3 linked regions of the Homo sapiens genome follow. The protein of the gene in region 3 interacts with the protein of the main gene of each other region in a biochemical or structural test. Each region holds a gene or a part of one and is shown on either strand. Other genes may lie near its edges.

The links.
Region 1: the proteins of URI1 (region 3) and ATF7 form a complex in vitro, tested with the Homo sapiens proteins (one large-scale study listed by BioGRID).
Region 2: of the proteins of URI1 (region 3) and RPS6KB1, one has a biochemical effect on the other in vitro, tested with the Homo sapiens proteins (one study listed by BioGRID).

What each region holds. Positions count from the first base shown.
Region 1 is NC_000012.12:53,532,268-53,535,920, forward strand, and holds part of ATF7 (cyclic AMP-dependent transcription factor ATF-7), read right to left. Parts: intron 3,326-3,653; exon of another isoform or gene 3,099-3,325; intron 2,393-3,098; coding exon 2,235-2,392; intron 993-2,234; coding exon 893-992; intron 357-892; coding exon 243-356; intron 1-242. Other genes in the region: ATF7-NPFF readthrough protein, read right to left, coding at 243-356, 893-992, 2,235-2,392. UniProt on the Homo sapiens protein: Stress-responsive chromatin regulator that plays a role in various biological processes including innate immunological memory, adipocyte differentiation or telomerase regulation.
Region 2 is NC_000017.11:59,899,559-59,903,211, reverse strand, and holds part of RPS6KB1 (ribosomal protein S6 kinase beta-1), read right to left. Parts: intron 1-3,653. UniProt on the Homo sapiens protein: Serine/threonine-protein kinase that acts downstream of mTOR signaling in response to growth factors and nutrients to promote cell proliferation, cell growth and cell cycle progression.
Region 3 is NC_000019.10:29,980,187-29,983,839, forward strand, and holds part of URI1 (unconventional prefoldin RPB5 interactor 1), read left to right. Parts: exon of another isoform or gene 1-64; intron 65-3,653. UniProt on the Homo sapiens protein: Involved in gene transcription regulation. Acts as a transcriptional repressor in concert with the corepressor UXT to regulate androgen receptor (AR) transcription.

The sequences.
Region 1 (3,653 bases), on a different chromosome or scaffold from region 3:
CATTCCAAACAATCTGTGCTGCCTCTTTTCACTGCCATGGTCTATGTACCAGGCTCTAAAGGTGGGGAGAGGAGATGGGAGCTATGAATTGGAGTCTTTTCTTTTCCAGACCCCACAGCAGGGAGTCCTTAGCTTTGCAAGCCCCAGAAGGTTCCTTTGCTTGGCTCACTTGAAAGACCTAGGCTGGTATCACCCACTTCTTTCAGAAAGGCCAACATTGCCCCAGACTGGGATGTACTCACCATCTTGGCTTCTGATGGTATAGGGTGGCCAGAGGGAGAAATGGAGCCACTACTGTTAACTGGTGGGCCAGGGATACCAGGAATGTTGGGCACCATGGACACAGGTCTGGCCAGCTGGATCGAGAGAAGGAAAAAAAAAAAAAGAGAAGGGAACATAATACCATCGGTGGGGCAACAGTTTCCCTAAAATGAAGCGCTTTTGAGATTGGCACATCAGGGCCTGTTGTGTGCAATGTGCCCATAGGGCGTGCAGGGACAGCCTGGGAAATACCTTTCTCCATGGAGCACCAGAGTAGGGAATTTAATCCTTCAGTGTTGGGGCAATTTCTGTGGGAAGGGTTGGGGCTGTTATCTTGAGGAAATTGTTGGGCAATTTGGGAGGTGCTACGTGCCAAGTGAAAGCAACTAATCAGTGGGCTGGCAAGATCAATTCCTAGACCAGGAGCCAATTGTCCAGATGAGTCTTTATCTAGTGTTCCATAGTGCTGGATTGGCAGAGGTTAGTGAAGAGTTTAGGCAGGCTGCCATGCTCAGCTAATATAGATCAGAGCCCACATTTCCCTGGGGCTCATGTGTATTTTATGACCATTCAGGTGGAAGGGAAGGATTACCATGTTGGTAGGGTTGGCTGCCCCAACTACAGAGCTCACCGATATAACAGACGGCATCTGTACTGGAGGCCCTGGCAACACAGGCATGGTCTGTCCATTAGCAAGATGCATGACAAGAGGGAGGGAGCCAGTGGGAGACCTAGAGGAGACATGAAGTGAAATGCTCATAACACAGACCTTTTGTCCATGGATCTTCCTCTTATAATTACAGAAGATTTTCCAGTCTTCTCTAGTTAGGGAAGGTATAGGGCAGCATGGTAAAAATCTTGACACCCTCATGAAGGTGAGAAGGCAGGGAATCCTATTCAACTTACCTTATAGATGGAGAAAAATGGCAAAATCTTTATACTTTGCAAATTAAGCAAACTCAAATAGTAGGAAGCTAATCCTATTAAAGGGTTTAGAACAATTAAACATTCCTACCACTGGCTTGCCTTGGGAAAGGGGAAGTTGGATCAAAGTCGTCATTTTGCAAAGCTGAGTTAGGTCACATGATGGCCAAATCTGAATGTTTCTCTTGTTTCTTTCCATGGCTTGCTCTACCCTGCCTCAAAAAGAAGTTGTCCCTTTTTATTTTTCCTAGTGGGTCCAGAGAACAATAAGCTCTAAGAATCTGAATCCTGACAACAGCCTCTTAACCCATGGGTACCGTGCCAGGAGTGAAGACAAACAGACAAATAAAATTAGAGGTGGCAAAGACCAAGAACCCTAACTGGGACTGAGGAGACTTAATGGGTTTCAGTGTTTCATTCAGTAGTACCCCAATAGACTTCTACAGGGTGTGGTTTCCACACTGTAATGAACTTCTAATGTTTTAAGAGCTCTTTTTAGATTAAAGAAGTATTAAACCCTTAAATTAAGAAAGTATTACCCCCGGCTGGGCACGGTGGCTCACGCCTGTAATCCCGGCACTTTGGGAGGCAGAGGCAGGCGGATCACGAGGTCAGGAGATCGAGATCGTCCTGGCTAACACGGTGAAACCCCGTCTCTACTAAAAATACAAAAAATTAGCTGGGCGTGGTTGCAGGCGCCTGTGTTCCCAGCTACTCGGGAGGCTGAGGCAGGAGAATGGCCTGAACCCGGGAGACGGAGCTTGCAGTGAGCCGAGATTGCACCACTGCACTCCAGCCTGGGCGACAGAGCGAGCCTCTATCTCAAAAAAACCCAAAAAAAACAAAAAGTATTACCTCCAAATAAATATTTGCTTGTCTATTAAAAAGGTAAAGAAGATTCTGTTTATGGGGGAAAAATTTATTTTGAGAGATAATCTCAGTGACTTATTTTCCTTGGGTATTGGAAAACAGTCCCAGTTTTATCAAATAGTTTCATGTAATGGAAAGAAATGCAGCCTTCACTACTTCTCCCTGCTCTCTGTACTTACCCCATTTGCCTGTTGGATGGTGGAGCCTGTGTGATGACAGAGGTTGGGGAGGGAAGGGTTGGATGAAGTGGATCATAGCCCAAGTGGAGAGGCAGGGAGCCAGGACGTACAATGGTGGGTGTGGGGGTAGAGATCAGAACAGGCTTTGGGGTAACCTCCTGGAGAAAAGAAACCAACAGATCACAAAATGTTTTAAGGTGTGCTTATAGGGAAATATATAGATGGTAAAATCTAGTACAAATTTATTGGAAAGAGCATTAGAGCCACTCATTAAATCATGACCTGATTCCATCAGGATCAGGGACCCATAACTCACTCATCCATTCAGGAGGAATGGTGTATTAAGATCTCTTGGTCATCTCCCCTTTCAGAGACAATGGCTACATAAATAAGATGACAGTTGGAATATCACTTGAAATCTCTGAAGCAGCACTGTAGTACCATATAAATTCTAGAGACTGTTATAATTTTTCACAATCTAGATACTCTCATTCTAAACTTGATACCAAGTGTCCTCTGAACTTCAGTGGGAAAAGGCAGGTATACTGGTAATGATGGTAATGAGGCAACCCAACATCTCCAACACACCTCTTAAAAAAGGGCTATGGAAGTTTGGATAATGATCATACTGTAATAAAACAAACTGCTCTCATTGTTAACTTCTTAAGATCTTAGACTGCCAGTGGTCAAATGGCCTTGACAGCATCCCCAGACAGTCTGTAGGACTTTGTTGCTGATGAAAAGGGAGGAGAGAGGCGGAGGAGGTTGCAGTGAGCTGAGATCGCACCACTGCACTCCAGCCTGGCGACAGAGCGAGACTCTGCCTCAAAAAAAAAAAAAAAAAGAAAAGGGAGGAGATGGGATGGTTGTAATGTTTATGAGAAGACAGATTTGAGAAGTTATCAAGTCAAATTTGGAGGGAAGTAACATGAGATATAGATGCTCTATCCATAGTGGATGTTAAAATTAACAACCACTGGCAGAGCAGTAGATTGAAAGAAGGAGGAAGCATGAGGGGGCTTCTGAGGTTCTAAGAAAATGTTTTTGATCTAGGTGCTGGTTATACAGACTACTGACTTCGTGAAAATTCAGTAAGTGATATAATTACAATTTATATACTTTTCTGTACATGTACTATATTTCAATAAATGTATTAAAAATAGTACTTCATGAAAGTACTTCCTTTAAAAAGAATAATCATCAGACTTCTAGTAGATACTTCCTTTAAATCACTTCTCTCTAGGATGACATTTTTTCGAAACTGTTAGATGTCCAATTTATGAATTATGTGAATTTTTCTTTCTCACTTATTAATTGAAGTATAACATACAGTGATGTGCATTAAAGTCATAACAACAAAATGACTTTTAGGCTGGGTGCGGTGCTCACGTCTGTAATCGCAGCACTTTGGGAGGCTGA
Region 2 (3,653 bases), on a different chromosome or scaffold from region 3:
GCCTCAGCCTCCTGAGTAGCTGGGATTACAGGCACCCGCCACCACGCCCGGCTAATTTTTGTATTTTTAGTAGAGATGGGGTTTCAGCATCTTGGCCAGACTGGTCTTAAACTCTTGACTTCATGATCCACCCAGCTCGGCCTCCCAAAGTGCTGGGAATACAGGCCACCATGCCCAGCATCGGCTCATTTTTTGTAGAGAACAGGTTTCATCACGTTGCCCAGGCCGGTCTGGAATTCCTGGACTCCAGCGATCCACCTGCCTCAGCCTCCCACAGTGCTAGGATTATAGGCATGAGCCCCCACACCCAGCCTTCTAAAAGGTTTATTCAGGCCAGGCGAGGAGGTGGCTCATGCCTATAATCCTAACACTTTGGGAGGCAGAGGCAGAAGAATTGCTTGAGGCCAGGAGTTTAAAACCAACCGGGACAAAATCACGAGACCCCCATCTCTGCAACAAATCAAAAAATTAGCTGGGAATGGTGGCACGTGCCTGTGGTCCCAGCTACATGAGAGACTGAGGCAGAAGAATTACTTCAGCCCAGGAGGGTGAAGCTGCAGCGAGCTTTTTCACGCCACTGCACTACAGCATGGGCAACGGAGTGAGACCCTATCTCCAAAAAAAAAAAAAAAAGAAACAAAAAATGCTTTATTCACAATTCAGTTGAACATCTGAATGAATAACTCAAATGAACATCAACCGGTAAATGGATAAACAAAATGCACTGTAGCCATAAAACAGAATAACTATTTGGCCCTAAAAAGAAATGAAGTACTGATACATGTTACAACATAAATGATCTTCAAAAACTTTATGCTGTGGCTCACGCCTGTAATCCCAGCACTTTGAGAGGCCAAGGCAGGCGGATCACTTGAGGTCAGGAGTTTGAGACCAGCCTGGCTAACATGGCAAAACCCCATCTCTACTAAAAATACAAAAATTAGCCAGGTGTGGTGGCGCACACCTGTGGTCCCAGCTACTCAGGAGGGTGAGGCAGGAAAATTACTTGAACCCAGGAGGCAGAGGTTGCAGTGAGCAGAGATCACACCACTGCACTCCAGCCTAGGTGATAGAGTGAGACTCCATCTCAAAAAAAAAAAAAAAAAAAAAAGTGAAAGCCACCAAATATAAAAGGTCATACACTATATGATTCCATTTATATGGAATGTCCAGAAAAAGCTTTTTTTTTTTTTTTTTTTAGAGACAGGTTCTCATTCTGTTGCGCAGGTTGAAGTGCAGTGGCAGGATCACGGCAAACTCAACCTTGGAGACTCAAGCGATCCTCCAACCTCAGCCTTCCAAGCAGCTGAGACTACAGCCGCACACCACCAAGACGGATAATTTTTTTCTATTTTTCGTAGAGACACGGGTCTCACTATGTTGCCCAGGCTAGTCTCAAGTGATCCTCCTGCCTCGGCCTCCCAAAGTGTTGGGATCACAGGTATGAGCCACACTGGGCCTAGAAAAGCCAAATCTATAGAGATGAGAAATAGGTTAGTTGCCTGGGGCTGAGGGTGAGAATCAGAAGTAACTAAATTGGCCAAAACTCTGTTTCTTTTTTTTTCTTTTTTTTTTTTTTTTTTTTTCAGAGACAGGGTGCTGTTATGCTGCCCAGGCTGATTTCAAACTCCTAGGCTCATGCGCTCCATCTGCCTTGGCCTCCCAAAGTACTGGGATTACAGGCGTAAGCCACCATGCCCAGCCCCAAAATTTCTTTATAGGGTGATAAAAATTTCCTTTTTTTTTTTTTAAGATGGAGTCTCGGCCAGGCGCGGTGGCTCACGCCTGTAATCCCAGCACTTTAGGAGGCTGAGGCGGGCGGATTGCAAGGTCAGGAGATCGAGACCATCCTGGCTAACACGGTGAAACCCCGTCTCTACTAAAAATACAAAACATTAGCCGGGCGTGGTGGCGGGCACCTGTAGTCCCAGCTACTCGGGAGGCTGAGGCAGGAGAATGGCGTGAACCTGGGAGGCGGAGCTTGCAGTGAGCCGAGATCGCGCCACTGTACTCCAGCCTGGGCAACAGAGCGAGACTCCGTCTCAAAAAAAAATGCAAGGTCTCACTCTGTTGCCCAGGCTGGAATGCAGTGGTGCAATCTCGGCTCATGGGAAACTCCACCTCCCAAGTTCAAGTGATTCTCCTGCCTCAGTCTCCCAAGTAGCTGGGATTACAGGCATGCACCACCACGCCTGGGTATTTTTGTATTATTAGTAGAGACAGGATTTTACCATGTTGGCCAGGCTAGTCTTGAACTCCCAACTTCAAGTGATCCATCTGCCTTGGCCTCCCAAAGTACTGAGATTACAGGCCTGAGCCACTGCGCCCGGCCGAGTGGTAAAAATTTCTAAAACCTAATTTTGGTGATGGCTGCACAACTCTGTAAATATACTCAAAGTCACTGAATTGTATAAACAAAAAACAACAAAAAACTTGGCAGCAGAATTTCAGTTACTGACATTATAATATATAGCTTTAAAATCAATCTAATCTGATTATGAACTCTCAGTTTACACGAAAGGATACTAATTAATTTAAAATAGACTCCAGGCCAGGCGCGTGGCTCACGCCTGTAATCCCAGCACTTTGGGGCCAAGGCAGGCGGATCACCTGAGATTGGGAGTTCGAGACCAGCCTGGCCAACATGGAGAAACCCCGCCTCTACTAAAAATACAAAAATTAGCCAGGCCTGGTGGCGGGCACTTGTAATCCTAGCTACTCAGGAGGCTGAGGAAAGAGAATCGCTTGAACCCAGGAGGTGGAGGTTGCAGTGAGCCAAGATCGCGCCATTGCACTCCAGGCTGGATGACAAGAGTGAGACTCCATCTCAAAAAAAAAGAAAAAGAAAATAGACTCTAAAACATTACAAGTCTTTAAGCAATCATGTCAAAACTTTAGAGTAGTTAAGATATTAAAGTGAATATATCTTTCTTCAAAACTACCAGTACACAGCCAACATACACAACAAAAACACATAGGGGTGTGTGTGTGTGTGTGTGTGTGTGTGTGTGTGTGTGTGTGTGTGTGTGTGTGTGTGTGTTTAGCAATTAGGTTTCTGTCACCCAGGCTGGAGTGCTGTAGTAGGATAATAGCTCATTGCATCCTCAAACTCCTGGGCTCCAGTGATCATCTCTTCTCAGCCTCTGGAGTCACTAGTGCCAGGCGTGTGCTGTGTGCTACTATGCCCACTATTTATTTTTTTAATTTTTTGTACAGATAGGGTCTTGTTTTGTTGGCCAGGTTGGTCTCGAACTCTTGGCCTCAAATGATCCTTCCACCTTAGCTTCCCAAAGTTCTGGGATTACAGGCACGAGCTATCATACCCAGCCAAAAACTGATAGTATTCTTATAGAATAAATGTTCAAATGCCCCCAAAACACAAAATTTTAGTCATAACTCACTCATGGTGTGACCAAATCACGATAACATGTAATACCAGGAATGTACACTTCATGATTATACCCAGGCAAAGAGATGGGGCAGTATCAAGGGGGAAAAAACCAATTCTCACCATTTTAACTGGATACAGTTTCTTTTATGTGTGGGATATGGGGGTGGTCATGGTTAAAGGTTTTTTTTGTCTTTGTTGCTCTACGTAATCGCCTAGGATGGCTTCACTTTTATGACAAAAGACTAACTTCTTCCAGATGTGA
Region 3 (3,653 bases):
AGTGGATCTTTGACAAAGATGCATTGCAAAACAATCAACAAACAATCAGAAAGGCATGCTATGTGTGAGTGATGATCCCTGCAGCATATGCCATAGGCTTGTTGTAGAGGAGCTGCTCAGTAAATGGTGGATTCAATTGAAACAAGTCTTTTTTGGATGCTTAATGGGAAGTTGTAGGGTGGGTATGATGGACTAAAAATTATTTCTAAAGAAGGTTATATATTGTATATATTCCAGAATCTTCCGTTTTTATCGTTTCTTAAATTAAAAAATAAAAATTTAACTCTGTCCCAGGTTAACTCAGATGTTAACACTTATATAGAAATTTTTTTCCTCTTTCCCCGTTAGGCATCTCACAGTATTTTCTGCTTGTCTGTTTAGGATGTTAGGTAGAGGAAAAGAGAGTGATAGAAGATTTTTTTTCTTAAAAAAAAAAAAAAAAAAAAAAAAAAACTGGGCCAGGCATGGTGGCTCACACCTGTAATCCCAGCACTCTGGGAGGCCGAAGCGGGTAGATCACAAGGTCAGGGTTCGAGACCAGCCTGACCAACATGGTGAAACCCCGTCTCTACTAAAAATACAAAAATTAGCCGGGTGCGGTGGCGCGTGCCTATAATCTCAGCTACTCAGGAGGCTGAGGCAGGAGAATCGCTTGAACCTGGGAGGTGGAGGTTGCAGTGAGCCGAGATCACGCCACGGCACTCCAGGCTGGGTGAAAGAGTGAGACTCCATCTCCAAAAAAAAAAAAAAAAAAAAAAGTTCAATGTTAGTATTTGCTGTCTATTTTAACTTCTTACTTTAAAGTAAAATTAGCAAAGTCTTATTGTTTCAACCTGATTTAAATTTTATCTCCCTTTTTTATTATTTAAAGGTTGGAGTCTTTATCACTGGCCTCAAAGGATGTAGACTTTTTTTTTTTAATAGAGATTTTTATTTTTGTCAGTCACTTTTAAGAGGATTAAAAATGTTGATCCCTTTCATATTTCCTCGTCCCTTTAAAAATATTCTATTATGACAAATTTCAAACATATGGAAGAGTGAATCTTGATCACCTATCTGTCTGTACCCTAATCCGTTAATCCATTTTTTTCTGATGAATTTCAAATTAAGTTGTGGACATCTGTGTATTTCACCCCTAAATACTTGAGCATATCCCTCATTTAACTTGATTTCTCTCTTACTTTCTACAATTTTATGCAAATGAGCTGTTTCCCATAGGTTCTGTCTTGATCTTAATCCTTTAAGGGTAAGGGCTAACTTGTGGTTGTGTTAATGGTCTTCATCGCTGCTGCCTATTTTTTTTTTTTAATTTCCTTAAAACAAAAGGTACTCTCAAAAGGCATATTGCACATGATTAGCAAGATTCAGAAGGAAGTGGTTAAAGTTTCTTACATGCCTTATACCTATGCTTTTAGTTCTTGTTTTGTATAAGGAATGTTGCATGAGGATATTGGAAAAAAATTTAAAATTAAGAGTTGAAGGCGGAACCTGATCTATAAGGATCCATTATGTTGAAGCCAAAGAAGCAGGTCTAGCTATTCTAAGTAAGTAGGCTGGAGAGGTGTTTCTTAACTCTATCTGGGTTTTGTTTTCCATTTGAAGAAAAATTATTTTAAGCAATTACCATTTTTGATTACTGTAATGACTCCTGTGTCCAAAAATTAATTACGTTTCTAATTATTAAAATAGAAAAAAAAATCTGTTCAAATTTTGTTATAAATAAAGACCCCAGACTTAACCTCAGTAATGCATTAGTTCTTAGCATAACTTTTGCATTTTCTGTTGCATAGGCTTTGTGATCTTTAACAGGATTATTTAAGCCTGAAATAATAGAGATACTATTTGGAGATCACTGTTTGACTAAGCCCTGAACATTTCCACGAATGTAGCCTTTAGAGAGAGAGGGTTCCTCAAGCTGTAGTTTCTTCCAGAGACATTGCTTGACTCCTCCTGGCCTCCCTTCATAAAGGATTTCTACATGGGCTGCATTTTAAGTGATCTTCTACTTTTGTATTTTTAGAAAATAATTCAAAATTTATAAATAGCAACTCTAATCTTAAACTGCTCTCCAGTATGTCCGCATTTTTATTCCAGAGAGAATTATTAATAAGTTGAAAACTGATTATATTTGACTTGAAATATTGACATTGATCTCTGGTATTGCCTGTTTTTGAACGTACTGTTCTTTTAATGTACAAAATAGATGTTTTTTGTGAGGAAGTTGTTTTTTTTTCTCCTAAGCATTGTTACCAAAATAAGACTTATTGAATGGTGACTTTAATACTAGCTTCTTAATATTCATAGAAATATTTAGATATCTAGGCTGGTGTATTTAGTCCTTGAGCATTTGCAGAATTACTTATCTGAAACATAAATAAGCTGTTAGTGTTATGTTATTAATAGTGAGTGTTGACTGTCTAGGCACTGTACCAGTCAGTCCTATGGAGACATTCTCCCATTGATTGCTCACACCAGTCCTGTTTCCAAAGCCCCTGAATGGTTACATTCAGCTGTACTGTCTTTCAGCAAGTTATACTATTTGTATCAAATTGGTTAGTGAAATCTTGTAGGTAATAGTCTTTCTTGAAAGTTTTGGAATTGATGTTTTTTGATGCTTCATGAAAAAAATGAGTTTTGAGTTTTGGAACCAAAATAGTAGTTGCTCCATGCTGGGCAGTGTGTTAGACCTTTTATATTTAATTCTGTTGAACCTGTGAGATAAGTATTAGTCCAATTTTGCCATTGAAGTTACTAAGACTAAGGTGAATTTGTGTAAATTGCATGTAGAGCTTGGGATTCACTCTCTGGTCTGACTTCAAAGCCATGTTCTTTCTGGTACATAGCCTTGTGCATGAAGTTTTTTTGCCATTTTATCCATATAAAAATTTTCCAGGAGGAGGATTTTTGCCTTAAACAAAAGAATAAAACATGTTTCGTATTTATTTATAGAAAAGGATTTTTTTTGGGGAAAGTTATAAAGCAGTTGCACACTAGAAAATGAGAAAGCTTTCATGAAGGAATGCAGGTCAGAAGACCTAGCTAGGTTAAACTCATTGCTTACCTCATCTTGATAGAGGAGATCTGGCTTCTTGCTATGTGGTTTTTCCATCTTCCTTCTACTTTGTCTTCTGTAAGAGAAAAATACTGATAAGTGACATTTATTATAGGTTATGTAAAATAATATATATGTGAAATTCCTTAAGATCTTAAGACTGAGCTAATTTTTTTTTATTAATTATGCTACTGTTGCTTCAGGGAACTAAGCAGTAAGCTGAAACCAATTCTGTGATGTTTGTCATTTATATTATCTGGAGAGTTGTTACCTACATTGCAGTTTATCCTGATTTCAATTTGACAATGTCTACATGTTCTTTTAAATTACTTGCTGAGTTGGTGAATTTTTGTTTCTGTTATTTTTAAAAACTGACAACATCCTTCTGCTTAAAAAAAATTCAGTGCTGTAGTTTTGCTTGCAGCCTGTATCTTAGCAGGGAACCCTTTGGAAACCCAGTCTCCAGAGAAAGTTTGACGGGCATCTTGGCATAGGCTGCTGCCTGGTATTACTCAAAAAGAAGGGCTGTTCATTTCCAGCAGGTGTTAAGAGCTGAGTAAGGCCCATAGCATGGAAATACGATCATCTCTGCCCCTACAGA